Regions from separate parts of the Homo sapiens genome. Here region 2 is linked to region 1. Evidence: fine-mapped expression QTL. A gene starts in region 1. The other region holds a variant in brackets. All regions are shown on one strand. Distances are from middle to middle.

What was found. PIP is the estimated chance that this variant, and not a neighbour inherited with it, causes the effect. A credible set is the group of variants that fine-mapping cannot tell apart.
Region 2: its variant is the best candidate, but not a certain one, in a credible set for the expression of ADAM17 in whole blood (TOPMed, PIP 0.52).

The regions. Positions count from the first base shown.
Region 1 is chr2:9,553,303-9,557,575 of GRCh38, forward strand. It overlaps ADAM17 (ADAM metallopeptidase domain 17), which reads right to left and starts at 2,528. Exons shown (of 19, transcript NM_003183.6): 1 at 2,207-2,528. The coding sequence starts at 2,303. RefSeq lists silencers at 1,538-1,832, 2,447-2,736, 2,967-3,186, 3,158-3,452.
Region 2 is chr2:9,527,632-9,531,904 of GRCh38, forward strand. It overlaps ADAM17 (ADAM metallopeptidase domain 17), which reads right to left. Exons shown (of 19, transcript NM_003183.6): 5 at 155-323. Among named protein-coding and RNA genes, the nearest start is that of ADAM17, 26 kb to the right of the region's middle. The variant G/A (reference allele first, on the strand shown) is at 2,213.

The sequences.
Region 1 (4,273 bases):
AAGATGGATATCGTCTGATCTTTGTATTTCCAATGCCACGTATAATACTTGTGTGTCCTTCAAATATTTCGTTTAAAAAAAAAAAAAGAGGCCGGGCCTGGTGGCTCAAGCCTTTAATCCCAGCACTTTGGGAGGCCGAGGTGTGCTGATCACCTGAGGTCAGGAGTTCGAGACCAGCCTGAATAACATGGAGAAACCCCATCTCTACTAAAAATACAAAAAATTAGCCGGACGTGGTGGCACATGCCTGTAATCCCAGCTACTTGGGAGGCTGAGGCAGGAGAATTGCTTGAACCCGGGAGGCGGAGGTTGTGGTGAGCTGAGATGACGCCATTGCACTCCAGCCTGGGCAACAAGAGCAAAACACTGCCTCAAAAAAAAAAAAAAAGAAAGAAAAAGAAAAGAAAAGAAAAAAGAAAAGTCTATGCATTCTTCTGGCACAGGTGGTCTGCATTTTGCAAATAAAAAACAAACACATGGGCCAGGAGCGGTGGTTCATGCCTGTAATCCCAGCACTTAGGGAGGCCCAGGTGGGCGGATCACGAGGTCAAGAGTTCTAGACCAGCCTGGCCAACATGGTGAAACCCCGTCTCTACTAGGAATACAAAAATTAGCTGGGCGTGGTGGCACATGCCTGTAATCCCAGCTACTCAGGAGGCTAAGGCAGGTGAACTGCTTGAACCCCGGGAGGCGGAGGTTGCAGTGAGCTGAGATCGCGCCACTGCACTCCAGCCTGGGCAACAGAGCAAGACTCTGTCTTGGAAAAAAAAAATGGTCTAAAAAACCTTACGATCTGCAAATGTTATGAATTGATCTAGAAAGTAATGTTTCTCTTTAAACTGTATGCTTCCTTGGGACTCATGCTTATTTTTACCTACGAACAACAGATTAATAACATAAGTGAAACAGTTGTGTCAGGGTGGTGCAAATATAATTTTAATATCTCAAAATACATATTTATTCTTTTTACTAACATTTATCCTTAAAATGAAGACCCTTACCCTATCCCTCCATCCTAACCACAATCCTACCTCAAAATGTCCTTCAATTTGTACTGACTTACCACTTCTCAGCACTTCCTAACAAGATCCCTTGCCTTTCATTAGTCACTTGTAATCCATTTCAATCGGAAAGAATCATAAGACAGCTGTTCAAGTGATAACACTCTCAACACCTTTAGTATCCATACCAATCCATTACAATTTCTGTCCACTAAATATAAAGAAAAAAAATACTACACATGGTATCATGGTGAAATTTGGGAACCAGTACAACCATGCAAGCCTACAATTTCACACACTGGGAAAACATTATTTCACACTTTATTACTAATTAAAGTATCTTACACGTCAATTTTTGAAAGATAAAAGGATTTTAAAATACACTAAAAGTTCACGCAAACTTACTTCCACCAAAGTTCAGATCCCTTAATGCATCTCCATCCTTAAAATCCAATCTCTCTGGAAAATCTAATGAAATAGGAACCCTCTACTTTCTAGCCTCTAAATTCATCAAACTCGTCACTCTTGATAATTTCTTTGTTTAAAAGTGCAAGGAAAGCATTCATAGTGGCAGCATCACGAGTTGGCTTACCAGGTTTCCGCCTCCCCCCATCTCCCAAGCACCTCCAATAAGCTACAATTGAAATAACCAAGAACGTGCTTAGGATGTTCGCAAAAACACAACTCTTAAGACTCCAACTCCAGTCTCCGCCTCCCAACGAGATTACTGCATAAGTACCTCCTACAGCAGAAATTCTAGTTCCCTCCTTCGAGGACCAGGAAGAATTCTGGAGCTTTGGGCCCTTCCTTTCTGGCTCTGGTAGGAACACACAACACTAGATTTGTTCCCTACTAAGGCAAGAACCCTGACCACATCTCCCTCTCCAAACAAGATCCAGCCACCCTACTCCTTACCGCTTTCCCAACACCCTCCCCGAACACAAAGCTAGGGAGCAAACCCCTCTCAGGCGCTCAGTCACTACATGGAGCCCGTCCAGTAGCCCTTTCCCACTCAGAGACAGGCCCATCTCCTTTATTCTTTCCCCAAACTCCGAGAGCCACACCCCCTTCTACACTGAAAACTTAGGGACGCGCCACCATCGCCAATACCCCGCCCCCAAACACCTGATAGACCCAGCTCCCCTGCTCTTCCCTCAAACGAGCGCTCCAGGCGCCGGCCTAAGCCAACTCCCCTGGGTCTTTACCGAGTCTCTGGTGGGGGCCGAAGCCCGGGTCATCCGGAGGTCGCGGCGCCAGCACGAAAGGAACCACGCTGGTCAGGAATAGGAGAGACTGCCTCATGTTCCCGGCCCCGCTACCGACTCCACCTCTCTGGGCAGCCTTCGCCTGACGGGGTTTCGGAAAACTGCTCACATCGGGGGAGGACGGGATCCGCCCGGCCTAGCCCCTCAATCCTCTTTTCCCTCCCGCGCCGCCTACTGGGAAGATTCTACCGCCAGGCTCGACGCCCCCAGAAGTGCAGGTGGCGTTACCAAAGGCCGGCTCAGCCAGCTTCCGGCCGCCGCTGTCCCCCGCACCACCCACAGCCGGAAGCCGGCTGCCGCGCGGCATCCCGGGAGGCTCCGCTTGCCCCGCCCCACGCCGGTGCGCCGCGGGCCTCTGGTCCGCTGCCGTGTTCGGCCCCGCCCGTCACGTCTAGCTGGGGCTCGCCCGGCGCCTTCCTGGACGCAGACGTATGAGTCCCAACTCCACCCAGTCCGGCCTGGCCTCTGTCCCCGGGTGACCGCGGAATGGGGGGGCGGGAGCTAGCGAGCAGGCCCTCAAGCGCGTCTGGCCGCCTCCTTTGTCTTGATGCCCACGTCTGGTTAGGACCCCTGCTGTCCATTTTATTAAAGGAGCTGTAGAAAGCGGCCTGGGGCCCAGCGACCTGCCCAGGGCGGACGAGGAGGCGCGACTGGCCCGATGCCGCAGGCTCTCTGCCCAGTGTGCTCAGGTGGGAGGGCGGGGACATGAATCGAGCCACAGAGTGCCCTGGGCACGGACCCCCCGCCCCCCCCGGCCCCGGGCCCCGAGCCCCGAGCCCCGAGCCCGGCCACCGAAGCCCGTGCCACTCGCCAGCTCCTGCGAGACGAGCCTTTCGAGCGCAGCTCAGGCATTTGGTTCAGGGTCCTACTGCCGGAGTCGTCTGAGGCCTCCATCCGTCTGTCGTCACGAAAAAGGTTTTGGGGGGACTAATAAGCACTTCCTGAATGCACATTTGCTCCACGCCCCTGCTGTAGGGAGAGGGTCTGCAGACACTTCAACAAATAGAATCCTAGGACCTTACCTGTGAGTACAAGAGCTGGAATCTTCCCACCAACTTCTTAAAATTCAATCCTATACTTGGTCCATTTAGCTTAGACTGGAAATTTCCCAAGGCAGTTTGTTTTGCAATCTTTTGCATGATTTTAGCTCTGTATAGTTTAGTGAATGTTTATGGTACTGAATAAAACAGTCTAAAAACGTTGGGTACATGTTGCTGTTTTATTTAGTTCAACCAAAGTTTATAAAAGTAGGACATAATACGTTTTCCACTTAAGAGTGAGACAGCCTTTATTATGAAACGGTAAATTGTTAGGAATACTAGTCCTATTCAAGTTTCAAGGCTTATTCCTAATAAAATACTCAAACTGTGGTTAAAATTTATGTTAATGGTGGTTTGCCGCAGTAAAATATCAGCGTCTTTTTCAACAATACATTGTTGGCTAAAATTAACCGGACCTGGTCTGTACATCTGAAGTATAAAATATCTTTATTAAACATACCCATTAGTGGCATACCTAGTCAAAAAGTAAGCAGAATTTCACATGCAAATTGTATACAATCTGTAAAAATTGTATTCCATAAGAATGTGACAGTTGAGTACGGTTTTTGGGGGGCTTTTTTGGTGTACCATAATAATGTCATCTGGTTTCTTTTCTGAACATCCAGTCACCATAATGTCCGGCTTGTAACTTTAGTAGATCGTAGATTGTATTATTTTGGTATCCCCAACAGCTCTTGTACAGTGCCTTGCTCATAGAAGGTACTTAGCTGTTTAGTAAATGCCGTTTAAAAAAAAAATCCCGATCCATTTTCTTTTCTTTTTTTTGGGGGGGGGTGGTGGGGGAAAGAGTTTCGCTCTTATTGCCCAGGCTGGAGTGCAATGGCGTGATCTTGGCCCACTACAACCGACTGAACACCTCCTAGGTTTAAGCGATTCTCCTGTCTCAGCCTCCCAAGTAACTGGGATTACAGGCGCCCGCCACCACGCCCAGCTAATTTTTGTATTT
Region 2 (4,273 bases), 26 kb before region 1:
AAGATGAAAATTTCTGGAACAAACCTCTTATTTTCATGCCAAATACTATAGTTACTTGACAATCATGTTATTTTTTAACAAATAACAACCACCCCTACTGAAGTCAATTGTAGTATGTTTGTTTCTTATTTGAAATACACTCTTTAAGTCTTACCTTCAGGTGGTTCTCTGTCTACTAACCCTTTTGGGAGCAACTCTTCATTATCCACTTTTAAATAACCACACACTTTTGGAGACTGCAAACGTGAAACATTCTTGATATCTTCAGATTTATAAACTAACATTCTTTTGTCTTTGGTATCATTAACAAATCTCCAAAGTGGCTAAAACAGAAAATATATACGACTGAGATGGAAAACAATAATAATTCCTAAACACTAAATTCTTCTAACATTCTTTGCTTGTTCTTAGATAACATTCATTTCTAGGTTAAGTAAACTGATTAGTCATGTTATTAAAATAAATAATCTCAATTTTTAATCATATGGAGTTTCTATGCAGGAAAGTAAATACATAGATTATAAACTCTGATTATTTTATCTGTATATAAATAAAGCCTTACATACTTTGCACGTTGTGAAATCTTTCAGAGGATGCAGAAGAGAAAAATGCATATCATTTTCCACTCATTCATTCAAAAATATTATGTAATATCTACTGTACACTGGCACTGTTATAGGTGATGGTGCTATAGTAATGAAAATTGGACAAGGTTTCTGTTCATGCAGCATTTTCATTTTAGTTTCCTTAATACTTAGGTGTTTGACACCTTTTTGCCACGTTAGGTTTTATCCACACAAAAGAACAAACATATTTATATGAAAGAAAACTCAGAACTTGTAACAATAGGTCTGAACCTTATTACTTGTTTCAGCGAACGCAGTTTTTAAACAAAATCTCCACTTACAATGTTACAAGGCCAGAGTAAATCACAATTAACATACTCCAAAGGTTACCCAAGTCAAAAGGCTGTTTGTTTGTTTTGTTTCAAAGCAAAGTTATTCTCTGTAAGAACACTGGTCTCATCAGAACCAGGCAGTTTGTGGGGGGACACACAAAAAATATATTTATCTCCATCAGGGAAATGCAAATCAAAACCCCAATGGGGAAAAAAACCCCCACAATGAGACACCCCTGTATACCCACTAGGATGACTATGATCAAAGACAAATACTGGTGAGGATGTAGAGAAATCCAGAACCCTCACATATGCTGATGAGAATGTAAAATGGTAAAACCACTTTAGAAAACAGTCTGGCAGGTCCTCAAAGGTTAAAAGTAGAAGTACCATATGACCCAGCAATTCTGCTCCTAGTATATAACCAAGAGAAATGAAAACACAAGCAGTAATGTAAATATAGCTAAAAAGTGGAAACAACCCAAATGTCCATCAACAACTAATCAATGAATAAACAAAATGCAGTTTATCCATACAATGGAATACTATTCAGCAATAAAAATAAATAAGATACAGATACATGCTACAACACAGATGAACCTTGGAAACATTATTCTAAGTGAAAGAAGCCACACACAGGCTGGGCGTGGTGGCTCATGTCTTTAATCCCAGCACTTCGGGAGGCCGAGGCAGGTGGATCACTTGAGGTCAGGAGTTTGAGAACAGCCTGGCCAACATAGTGAAACCCCGACTCTAGTAAAAAATACAAAAATTAGTCAGGCATGGTGGCAGGAGCCTGTAATCCCAGCTACCTGGGAGGCTGAGGCAAGAGAATCAGTTGAACCCAGGAGGCAAAAGTTGCAGTGAGCTGAGATCATGCCACTGCACTCCAGCCTGGGTGACAGAGCAAGACTCCATCTCAAAAAAATAAAAAAATTGAAGCCACACACAAAAGACATGTTATGTAATTCCATTTATATGAGATGACCCAAACAGACAAATCTAAATAGACAGTAGATCCCTGGTTGCCTAGAGCTGGGGGAGTTAGGGAGGAAGGGGGAAGTATGGCTAAAGGATACAGCGTTTCTTTTTCAGGTGATAAAAATGTTCTAAAATTGAATGAGGTGGTGTTTGCACAACTCCATCAATATACGAAAACTGCCGGGCGCGATGGCTCACGCCTGTAATCTCAGCACTTTGGGGAGGCCATGGTGGGCAGATAACTTGAGTCCAGGAGTTCGAGAACAGCCTGACCAACACGGTGAAACCCCATCTCTACTGAAACACAAAAATCAGCCGGGCATGGTGGTGGGC[G/A]CCTGTAATCCCAGCTACTCAACAGGCTGAGGCCACAGAATCACTTGAACCCAGGAGGCAGAGGTTGCAGTGATCGTGCCACTGCACTCCAGCCTGGGTGACAGAGTGAGACTCCATCTCAAAAATACACACACACACACACACACACAAAACTACAAAATTGTATACATTAAGTGGGTGAATAATATAGTATGTGAATTTTATCTCAATAAAACTGTTAAATATTATATGCATATACATCTTTGGTAATCCATGTATGAGGCAGATGTAAGAAACAAGGGTTACAGAATTTCAGGGTTGGCAGAGATCTCAAAAGTTAACTAACCCAACTTCCGGGCTACAGGAATCTTCCATATTTAGTAAAGTTCATTTAGCCTATGAATAGGAGTGAAATTTTTTTTCTTTTGGGTCAAACATTTCTAAGTTCACATTGATTGTTTCCTAGTATAGTCAGTCCAGCACAGAAAAAGACAGCTGGCTTTGGGATCAGATATATCTGAGTTCAAACCTCAACCATACCTCACTATGTGCCTTGGACAAGTACCCTGAGCATAACCTCCCTCATTAGGTAAAGTAGTGATAATACCTAACTTGAAGATTATGAAGATTATGTAGGTAATAAATCTAGTTTTATATTAACATTTCAAAAGAAAAGTGGTTGTTATTAATAAAAGCTAAGGCTATTACCATTATTACTAGTAAGTTGCTGGAAAAAATAATTTGATGAGTAATTGACTAAAAGGCAGAAAACTGGATTGGATCCTGGACTGGAAAACCAAAAAAAATCTACAAAGGAGATTTTGAGGATGACTAGAGATTTTGACTATGGCATGATTATTAGATAATATTGTAGAATTCTTGTCATTTTCTCAGGTATGTTACTTTTATTACAGCTATAGAAAAGAGTGCCTTTATTCCTAAGGATGCATACAGAAGTATTTAGGGGTGAAGGGTCATGATGTTTGCAAATGATTTTCATATGATTCACGAAAAAAAGAGAGAAAGCTAACAGGACATTATGTTAGAAATTGTTTAAGGGCTACAGGGTATTTTTTAAAAAAATCTTTCTGTAACTACAGGGTACTTTTTAATCTTTCTGTAGATTTGCACATTTTCTTTTTTATTTTTTTCTGAGACAGAGTTTCACCCTGTCACCCACATTGGAGTACAGTGGAGCGATCTCAGCTCACTGCAACCTCTGTCTCCCAGGTTCAAGCGATTCTCCCACCTAGGCCTCCCGAGCAGTTGGGATTACGGGCGCAAGCCACCAAGCCTGGCTAATTTTTGTATTTTTAGTAGAGACGAGGTTTCACCATGTTGGCCAGGCTGGCCTCGAACTCCTGGCCTGAAGTGATCCACCCACCTCAGCTTCCCAAAGTGCTGGGATGACAGGCATGAGCCACTGCACCAGCTGAACATTTTTAAAACTAGAAGCTGGGGGAGGCCAAGCATGGTGGCTCACGTCTGTCATCCCAGCACTTTGGGAGGCCGAGGTGGGCAGATCACAAGGTCAGAAGTTCAAGACCAGCCTCACTAACATGGTGAAACCCCGTCTCTACTAAAAATACAAAAATTAGGCCGGATGCAGTGGCTCATGCCTGTAATCCCAGCACCTTGGGAGGCCGACGCGGGTGGATCACCTGAGACCAGGAGTTCAAGACCAGCCTGGCCAACGTGGCAAAACCCTGTCTCTACCAAAAATATAAAAACTAGCCGGGCACAGTGGCGTGTGCCTGTAATCCCAGCTACTTGGGAGGCTGAGGCAGGAGAAATGCTTGAACCTGGGAGGCGGAGACTGCAGTGAGCCGAGATTGCGCCACTGCACTCCAGCCTGGGCGACAGAGCAAGACTCCATCTCAAATAAATAAATAAAAGTTGGGGGAAATATTATCTCACTATGCAAGTTTAACCCAGGATTATTTATATAAATAGTAAGCTATGGTAAAGTCAGTGACGGTTTAAAATATTTAACGGCTGCGCACAGTGGCTCACACCTGTAATCCCAGCACTTTGGGAGGCCAAGCAAGAGGATTGCTTACAGTCAGACATTTGAGATCAGCC